Regions from separate parts of the Homo sapiens genome. Here region 1 is linked to region 2. Evidence: fine-mapped expression QTL. Tissue or cell type: whole blood. Region 2 holds a variant in brackets; the other region holds the start of a gene. All regions are shown on one strand. Distances are between the middles of the regions.

Region 1 (5,110 bases), 86 kb before region 2:
CATTTGGGAAACTTGGAAGTACCACACAAATGTAAATTACTGTACAATTAAACTTAGCACAGGCTATGTTTTTAACCAGCTCTACTCTTTATACACTTAGGGGTTAATTCTAATTTGCACAATTATACTAAACCAATAAATGGGAACTTTTGCATATGACCTCATCAACTGGTCTTCCTAGGAAATATAGGTAAGATGTGCTTCTTACATAAGAACAGTGGTTCTCAGTATTGGCTGCCCATTAGAATCACCTGGAAATGCTTTTAGACCTTACCCTTGTTTAGCTCTGCTATTAGGGATTCTGATTGAATTGGTCTGGGTGAGGCCTCGGCATCAGTATGATTTAAAATCTCCTCAGGTGATTCAAATGTGATCCCGAATTGAGAAGCCCTGCTGTGCAGTGTTTCAGGATTGCATTTTCTATGCTAGAGGGAGAGGTTTATCCACCAACTTGCTCCAGCAGGAATACCTGAGCTTTCTAGGACCTCCAGGAAGATTCTCCCAGTGTACGTCCCATCAGGGTAGGTGTGATAGATGCAGAAGTACTCCCCTGTATCGTTCACGGTCAGCGACTGGAGGGTGAGGCCCAGGCCGGGACCTGGGGCCACTCGATCCTTGAAGGATGGGGAGATGTGCCACCCCAAGTCAGCATTACAAATGGCCAGAAGCTGGTCCTGCTGCTCCCAGTTGACCTGGGTCACTTGTGCCGTGGTGGAGGAGAGGTGACATTGTAAGATGATAGAGCCACCTTTCTCTGCAGAAATGTTCCCCGTTGTTTCTATTGTGCCTGTCATCATTCCTAGGGAAGAGGACGAAGCACATGTGAGTCCTGGGTCAGCAGCTGGCCTTCAACCTTCCTAGAAAAATTCTAAGGGCCTTTGAGGCCCCAACTGGATTTTGGAATGATAGTTTCTCCAGTCCATCCTGTTGCTCCTCCATAGAGGCTGTAATTATTTCCTGTTTCTTCCATTTCAAGAGACGCTCCTCTCCATGCCTGTTATTCAAGGCTCCCAGTCCCCCATTCAGGTTGTCTTTCCAGTCTTCTCACCCTTCTCCACACATCTCTACTCCAGCCCAGCCCAGCCCATCTCCTCCCCACCCACTGCCCTATGCTTCCAGAGCTGACTTCTGCCCCTCTTTACACCTCGCCCACAGGGAGGCTTGTCAAGGCTGCACTCCCTCCCCGCCTCCTAGAAGACCTCAGCCCATCTCAACCTCCCTTTTCCTTTCACATTCACTGCCTGTATTGTATAATTAGCACCTTACTAAATGCCTGGCTTATGACTACACAACTTAGCACGTTGCCCCCTCGCATATTCTGCTATGTAGCTTCATGGCCAGCTTGTTATTTTCGTAGGCCTATTTTGTCTACCCACTTAGAATATAAGCCCTTGTCAGCTGATACCACCTCTTCTGTTTTTATTTTGTTTTGTTTTTATGTTTCTTCCTGCGGCCTAGTTCTATGCTGGATGCATTATCCTTTGAAATAAAACCTTGCTGTTTGGTTGATTGTCATTTGCAGTGCCTGAAAAAACCTTCAGGAAAGCCAAGAAATCCAATAGCAAAGGAAGCTTAGCAGGAAACCCTGCTTCTCCCAGGCATAACCACCCTCTCAGCACTTAACCTCTCCCCAGCAACCCTGGGCACATCTCCATCCTCAGATAGTTCAGAAGGCAACATAAAAACTAATTTATACCACAGTTTTTAAATATTTGTGTTCCCCTCCCTCAGAAATATTTGACTCTGATTTTTAATATAGAAGAAATAAATTTAACAAAAAATCAGTCTCTAGTGGTAGAACCTCTGGAATCTGTGAAAAAGACATTTTCAATTCACAGAGAACTTATAATGTTTTCCTGGAAAGTTCCTGAAAGGCAACAGAAAAGAAGCTGGAGCAGGAATGAGCTTCTAAAAGCAAACTGGCAATGCCTCCTGCCCAGCCCTTCTTCTTCTCCTGCTCCTTCTTGTGCTGGCCAGTCAGGCTCCTCCAACCCCGGAAGTCTGCAAAGTCCTTCATCTGCCACCAAAAACAGAACCCCACCTCATTCTCAGAGATTGTCCTTTCTTAAATAAGAGTACACAGGACTCTAAAAGTTGCAATTTCTTTCTCTCAAGCAGCTGTGGCATGCTCTTGGAGTCTTCCCTACACAAGCACCCAAGTCTCCAACCAAGCTTAGCCTTGTTTTTCCTCCCTGCTGCTCTGCTGGGTTTCAGGCCTTACCTGAGGCGAGGGGAGCCTGCCTCAGCCCCTGGGCCCAGATCAGGAGGAGACACCAGCGCATGCTTCTGCCCAGAGGGCCTACAGGAAGCAGATGTGGCCTCTTCTGCCACTGAAAGTAGCCGACTGCAGATAGGACGGTAAAACTGAGCCTCTGAGAAAAGACGGTCTCGGAAAAACCAAGTTTGGCAAAAACCATATTAAAAACACATAAAGTTGTCAACAAATACACAAACTGCATAGGGTGAGCCACAAGAAAGGCCATGAAGGAAACATTTAAAAATAAATGAAAATTGTGGTTAGAGGTACACTCGTCTTTGGATTATAGTCAATCTATTGTTTTTAAGTTCTGTCTTAATGTTTTTTCTAAAAATCAGCCTTTATTCAAAGAGCTCAAGGGCATCTGTGTAGTGCCCAAGATTCTGAAGAATCTGCTACTGATGAGGAACTGTTGGCTGAGCTCCTCTGGCATCCTCCTGATGAAGAATGTGCAATGATAAGAGAAGCTTATCATTGTAGGGACTTACAGGCCAGGGACTGCACTTGAAATCTAATGAACAGGTGAACAAGAAGTGTTTACTTGGGGGATGATACATGGATGGGACAAAGGTCTTGGACAAACACAGCAACTTTCCCTTGAAGGAGATCTTCTACTCGAATCTTATTTCTTTTGTCTTGTTTATCTGGACTGAGACTTTATTGAATTCTGGCTTGATTTCTCTGGTGCAGTAGGATCAGAGGAGATTAGAGGAGAGAGCTTTCCTGTGCACAATGACCTCATGAGAGCTGGAAATGCAAAGAAGGGTGAGCCCCTGGGAGCTGACCCAGGAGAGGGATTGGTTGACATTTGCCTGGAGCTCCCAGCCCATCACCAGGTCCTACTATGGACCCATCCTTCTTTCCTCCCTCCCTCCCTTCATTCATTTGAAAGTCCCTGGGTGCCTACAAAGCACCAACCTCAACACCAGGCTCTGAGGATATGAGAGTAAATAATCACAGCCCCTACCCTCAAATAGTTTACAAAGCTTGTTCCTTGGTGAACTCAGTCAGGAGAGGGGGTAGAAGATCCACATTCACCTGCCTCGCAGGCTCTCAACACAGTTGCCTTGGGGATGCTCCATGTTGTACATCCTGAAAATCTGCATCTGCACCCAGAAGCATCTGAAGCCTGGTGCCCCACCCCCTCCATTCCAGCCATGCACCTCTAGCATTTCACACCATCCAGGCTCCTACCCTCCTTCTCCCTTGCAAGGTCTTCTATCTCAGGCCAGTTTTCTCCCCTCTCTGGGTTCTGCCTATCCCCAACTCTATGACTTGTATACCCCTTATACCCCACCTCCAGACCCTTAGACAATATACGCCTTACCAGCTTCTCTCTGCCTACCCAAAGCAACCTGTCCTTCAAGGCTCACATCAAGAGATGCCTTGCCTTTCAATAGCTACAAAGCCTTCAGCTGAAGGAGAAATAATACCTAATGTGTGTCCAAGGGAAGGTGCCAAGGTTGAACTGGAGGGATGTTTCCCAAACTCACTAAGGCCGGGGAGCCAGGAGTGGCAGGGCCAAGAGCAGCTAGTGGGACTAGAGCACAGAAAGTGGTGGACACTAGGATTTGGGCTATAAAAATTTACAGCCTGTGTTTCCATAGTTGAGCTGGGTGGGAGCCAAAGAGGTGAGACCTCTCTTATATAATGAGATATCCAGAGAAACTTAGAGGTGGTTTTAAACAATTGTTAAATAATTTTTCTGTTTTTTGCTAAGTAACCAGTCCAAAGAGGAATATGGTCAAGTCCATTTTGATCAATGGTGCTCTAGAGGGGGATGATTAACAGACTGGGTCCAAAGTCATCCTGTTTGGTGACCTTGGAAAACTTTCTCAACCTCCTGAAGGCTCAGTTTCCCCATGTGCATATAGGAATAAGAGTACCTCTTTCATAGGGTTGTGAGGATTTAATTCTCTAGTGTTTGGTGAAGTGTTCAGCACAGTGCCTGGAAGATGGCAGGAGTTCAATACATCAACAGTAGTATTGATAACAATATTAATTAAGGAAGTGAAAGGAAAATTGGAGGACAATATCCCTATCTATATAATGTGCTTTGTCAAGAGTAAAATCCTAGTCTCCAGACTCCAAGGCCAGGGTTCCACCCAACCTCTTCATTCTGCCCTCCTTATCTGATAGAACAGGAGGATAGCATGTTTCTGCAGGAAAGTGACCACTTGCCAGCTAGACCCTGAGGCTGCCTTGGAGGAAAGCAAATGACAGAAGTCTCTCCCCAGGGAATCTACCCCAGACCCTCCAGAGCCTCCTGCACAGACTCCACGGGGAACCTGGCTGGTTCCCACCCACTCAACACCAGCCCCCAGCACTGAGCGGCTCAGCTGTGAGAAGCAGGCCTGCTCTGAGAGCTCCCCGGGCCACCCTGAGCTTTTAAGGCCAGTCAGCAGCCCTCGTGGCATAGCAGGGATCTGTGAGGTCCATCAGGTGCTGACTCACATTTCTATTTTAAAAATGCTAAAATCAGCCACTGTGCTTTATTCTGCCCTGACTTTTGGGGCTGTGAGTTGGACAAGTCTGGTCCGCCTTGATGCAGCTGGGTGAGTACAGGTGCTGAAAAAGAATGTCACGTTTGCCCGTGAAAGGGGAAGAAGTGCTGGCCTAGACTGTAAAACCCCCTTATCAGTTCACAGCTGGGCCTTCCCCTAGCCCGCCCTGCGCCCTGTGAAAGTCCCGGGCCAGCCGCACTTGAGTCCACAGCCTCCAACCACAAGCACGGTCCTGAAAACCTGTGGCCCGCAGCCCTCAGCCAAGCGGGGCTGGGAGTGGTGGTACCTTCCACAAGATCGGTGGCTTGTACACGGGAAACACAACCTAGGGTTCTCCCAGAGCACAGAC
Region 2 (5,216 bases):
CTACTTTCAAGAACCTTGTGAGGGAGGAGAAAAACCCTCTCCATTATTGTAGACAAACAGATGCTCTCAAGTTGAGCGAGATGAGGGGGCTCAAAAACATGACATGAACAACTCTTTTTCTTTTTCTCAGACAGAGTCTTGCTCTTAATGCCCAGGCTGAAGTGCAGTGACGCCATCCCAGCTCACTGAAACTTGGGCCGCCTGGGTTTAAGCGATCCTCATGCCTCAGCCTCCCAAGTAGCTGGGATTACAGGTGTCCACCATCATGCCCAACTAATTTTTGTATTTTTAGTACAGATGGGGTTTTACCATGTTGGCTAGGCTGGTCTCAAACTCCTGACCTCAGGTGATCCACCCACCTCGGCCTCCCAAAGTGCTGGGATTACAGACACAAGCCACCACCCCCAGCCAAACAACTCTTAAAGTAACTTGAATTGAGAGCTGTTTTCAATCATTGGAACAGCTGCCAATGTGAAGAAAGAAGCAGAGCAACACTAGGGTTTGTTGGAAGATATTTCCAACAAAATTGACCAGCAATGGAATGGGTTCTTTGCAAGGATGATAGAAGCTCTTCAACACTGGAGAGAAGACTGTGATAAGATAATATAATTTGGACTAGAGTTCTTCTACCTTCAATGCTAATTGTTTATCATTTTGACACTAAAGAAGAGATTTATTTGCCAAAAAGTCTCTTCTTGGCATTACCAGGTATGTATAAGAGTAAATTGCCCTGAGATAGAAAAACAAAAGCACAAAGGAGCCTCACAATGGGCCAGCAGATAGGAGTTAGACTGTACAGCATGGACCAGTGCTCCCACTGGGAGGTTGCCTGGCCAACTCAGGCACAGTATCTTAAGAGGCTGTGGTTACCTGGGCCCAAGCTGAGCTGCTGTCAGTATCCAAAAGGTCCAGTCTTGTGATCTGAAGAACAACAACAGGAGACTCTGGACAGCAGAAAAGGTCCATCCCTGATCTGAGTTCAAAATAAGGGTGCAGTTATAGCCAGGAGTAAGCATGCTAATAAGAAACCCAAGCTATGGTCTTTAACTGTTTTAGATTCCATACCCCTTTGAGAGTCCATGAAAGTTATGGCCCCTCTCTGCAGGAAAAAATGCAATTTGCACAAACATACATCATTGTGCCTATAATTGCAAAGACTTCTTTGAACCCCATATAGTCCATTCAAGAAATACAGGTTCAGAACACAACGCACCATCAATACTTTTTACTGATGTTGATGATGATAGATTGGATTTCTTGTATGAACGAGTGCCAAAAGCCTGATAAATGAACACTGAGGTTTTAATCCAGAAAAATTCTAAAGTAGGAAGAAGTCATAACGTATTTGTCCCTCTCCCTAGTACCTTTCTGTCCAATGGAAGAACCTAGAGATTCCAGAGAAGAGGTAAGGATATCTCAAGATAGCTTTTCTGTGCTCCTAAGGGAGACTAGAGTATAGGCTGAACCCCATGACTCACAAGAATAATCCAAAAGGTCAACACACAAAATTATTTTCAATAAACTTCTCATAACCACAGTCAGGTTGACTATTCCCATCCCAAATTTAATTCCTTCTTTAGGTTGGCCCATGTCTGCTGTGCCCAAACAGGTCCAGAGAGAGTACTTGCCCCATTATCTTCTGTTAAAATGTCTTTGCTTGGCATCTAAACCAATTTAATGTTTTTACTTAAAAAGCAGTAGATATGAAGCGTTAGTTATCTATTGCTGCATAACAAATTGCCTCAAAACTTAGCAGCTTAAAACAACAAATATTAATTATTTATTAGTATTTTTATAGGTCAAGAATCTGGGCACAGCTTAGCCAGATGCCTGTACCCCAAAGTCTCTCACAAGGCTATAATCAAGGTGCTGACCACAGCTGTGGTCTGATGTGATGGTTTAACTAAGGGAGGACTGATTTCTAAGCTCCTCACATAGTTGGTAAAATTCAGTTCCTCACAGTTTTCTGGACTGAACACCTCACGTCTTCACTGGCTGTTGGATGGCCAGAGGACTCCTTCAGTTGATTGACACATGGGTCTCTCTATCATGTTGCTCACAATGTGGCAACTAGCTTCCCTCAGAGTTAACAAGCGAGAGAATGAAAAAGAGCAAGCACGATGCAAGCCACAATCTTTCACTTCCTAATCTCAGAAGCGGCATCCCATCCCTTTTGATATATTATATCTATTAGAAATGAGTCATTAACATTCACCTCACACCCCAGGGGAAGGGATTACATGAGGGCATGAGTATCAGGAGGGGAGAATCATGGAGACCCTCTTAGAGATGCCCTATCATATGTGGATTCAAATTCTGGCTCTGCCACTTATAGTAGGACCTCAGACAAGTAACAGTCTCTCAGCCTTGATTTTCTCCTCTATGAAGTTAAAGCAATAATGCGTAATTTGCAGAGTTGTGATGAAAATTAAAGATAATAAATATAACTCCGACAACTCAATTTAAAAATGTCAAAGCACTTGAATAAGCATTTCTCCAAAGAAGATACACAAATGGCCAATAAGCACATGAAAAGATGCTCAACATCATTCGTCATTAGGGAAATGCGGATCAAAGCCAC[G/A]ATGAGATACCACTTCATAACTACTAGGATGACTACTTTTTAAAAAAGGAAATAATAAGGAATAACAAATGTTTGTAAGGATGTGGAAAAAATGGAAATTTGTGCATTGCTGGTGAGGATATAAATTGTATAGCCCTCTGGAAAACAGTTTGGCTATTCCTCAAAACATTAAACATAGAATTACCTTATGACCCCGCAACTGCACTGCTAGGTATATACCAAAAAGAATTGAAAACAAAGACTTAAACAGATACTTATAAGCTAATGTTGATAGCAGCATTATTCACAACAGCCAAAGGTGGTGTGCTATGGTTTGAATGTGTCCCCCAAAGTTCATGTGTTAGAAACTTAATCCCCAGTGCAACAATGTTGAGAGGTGGGATATTTAAGAGATGATTAGGTCATGGGGCTCAGACTTTATGAATGAATTAATGCTGTTTTGCAGAGTGAATTATCTGGAGAGTGGGTTACTGAAAAAAGAATTAAGCCCTCTTTCTCTCTCTAAGTGAAATAAATCAGACACAAAAGGACAAATATTGCATGATTTCAATTATATGAAATATCTAGAATAGACAAATTCACAGAGATTGAAAGTATATTAGAGGTTACCATGGAATGGGAGAAGGGAATAATGGGGAGTTATTGCTTAATGGACACAGAATTTCTCTTTGAGATGATGAAATGATTTTTGGAAATTGTGATGGTTATATAAGATGGTGAATGTAATTAATGCCATTGAATTGTACACTTTAAAATGATGAAAATGGCAAATTTTAAATTATATATGTTTTACTACAATTTTTAAAAATTACGAATATAGCAGGTGCTTGACAAACAATCATACCATCAGCAGAAACCCATGAAGGCAATCGTTTGAATGCCTTGAACTGTGTGGCCTTGCCAGATATGAGATGTTAAAGAGATTGTGGAGAGGATGAGGGAGGTCAAATTTTCTTCCACCAATAGCTTCTTCCTTGGTTGACATTTCTAGGATACCACATTTTCCATAAATACCTAGCTCTAATCTGAGAAGGAATAGGGGAGAGATTACTATATTTCCTGTGATAGTTTGGGGGATATACGCTCATAGTTTCAGGTAAAACTTACACAAAAGCAAATTTTGCCCTTTTAGATCATCTACTTTTCACCTTAGTTGCCCTCAAGATTTGATGTGATTTCACAACGTGTTTTAAAATTGCTCAGCTGTTCTTCTATAATGGCTACTTACCTATGGCACTCTAGACCAGTGGCTCTGGCCTTGAAGCCAAGTACCCTGGAGCTTGGATCTCAGCTCTGAAGCTTCCTGAGAGAGTGATTTGAGCTGGTCAACCTCTCTATACTTCCATTTCTTCTCTGTGAAAGGAAGATAACAATGCCTGGTTCATATGATATTGTAAGGTATGAATGAAATAATGCATATAAAGGATTTAGAAGTGGCCTGGTACATGTCACAGTGAGAAATAAATGGCAGCTAATATGATTTCAGAGCTCTATCAATCACTTACCAAACCTTTTAAATATCTGTCTGTGGAACTTTAAATGAGGGAAGAATTATTTAACTTTAGTTTCTAAGTATCTGATGAATAAAATAGATCATTTCCCATTTCTTCATTCAAACATTAATGAATGCTTCCTGTGTGAATGCCATTCTACTTATGCAGTCTTGCTTCATTCGTATGATAAAGTGAGGGCAGAATTGGGAGGTGTAAACTGGATAATAGCCATGATTGAAGTCACTGTGAGAACTAGATGAAATTCCTAGAGCAATTAAAATCTTCCAGATTCATTCTAGTGTCCAGTTCACCTTACATTACAAATAGTTTTGAAAAGCCAGTAAGACTGTGCCAATATCTTTAAATAGAGCACACTGATTCCTGAGAATAAAGAAAGAAGCATTGTCATGACTAAGGACTTACGAAGACCAAGACTGTTCTTTCACTCCTGGGTAGGAAATAAGACTCATTTGTGTGCTGTTTAGGACAATCTGTTTGTGCTGTTTCGGATAAGCTAGACTAGAAGGCAAAGGAACACCTGTTCAAATTTTGTGACAAATGAACAGGTAGCCTTTTCTTTAAGATTATAAAGAAATAGCAAAAGAAAGTTGCTAAGTTGAACATATGAACTCACCTAGGTTCTGAGGGCCTGCCATGAGCCTTTCCATCTTAGTTCAGATTTCTCCCACAGGGATAATTTGAAATTATTTTAAAACAGCTATTGTGGTAGCCAGTTTCATGTGCTGATTATTTCATGTTAACTGATTGTAATCAAATCATTGCTTTTCTTTTAAAATATTCTAATACACTATCCATGATTCCTCCCACCAAAATATTCTGAATTAAAGACCATTTGACAATATTTACCCTAACTTTTTAATTTCTTCTCCTCAGAATGCAAAATATGCCTTCTCATACCATAGAGAAAACTCTCTTCTAATTCATTCATGCAATGAATTCAATAAATATTTGTTTATACAACATATAGCTATTGAGTGCCAAGGGGAAAGCAGTGATATATTCTCCCTCCACCCCTCTTAATAAGTATAGAGGTAAAAATAATAAAGGAGGAATGATCATCAAGCTCCCACTTGAATGATTCCAGTGATAGGCAACTCACTATTTACAAGAGTTCAAACTCA

Evidence for each region. PIP is the estimated chance that this variant, and not a neighbour inherited with it, causes the effect.
Region 1: TIGIT starts here. The variant in region 2 is fine-mapped to the expression of TIGIT in whole blood (INTERVAL, PIP 0.96).

What each region holds. Positions count from the first base shown.
Region 1 is chr3:114,291,234-114,296,343 of GRCh38, reverse strand. TIGIT (T cell immunoreceptor with Ig and ITIM domains) reads right to left here and starts at 2,316. Exons shown (of 4, transcript NM_173799.4): 1 at 2,222-2,316; 2 at 470-799. The coding sequence starts at 2,282. RefSeq lists enhancers at 4,118-5,060, 4,958-5,110, 5,061-5,110.
Region 2 is chr3:114,204,832-114,210,047 of GRCh38, reverse strand. No RefSeq gene overlaps it. Among named protein-coding and RNA genes, the nearest start is that of DRD3, 28 kb to the right of the region's middle. The variant G/A (reference allele first, on the strand shown) is at 2,582.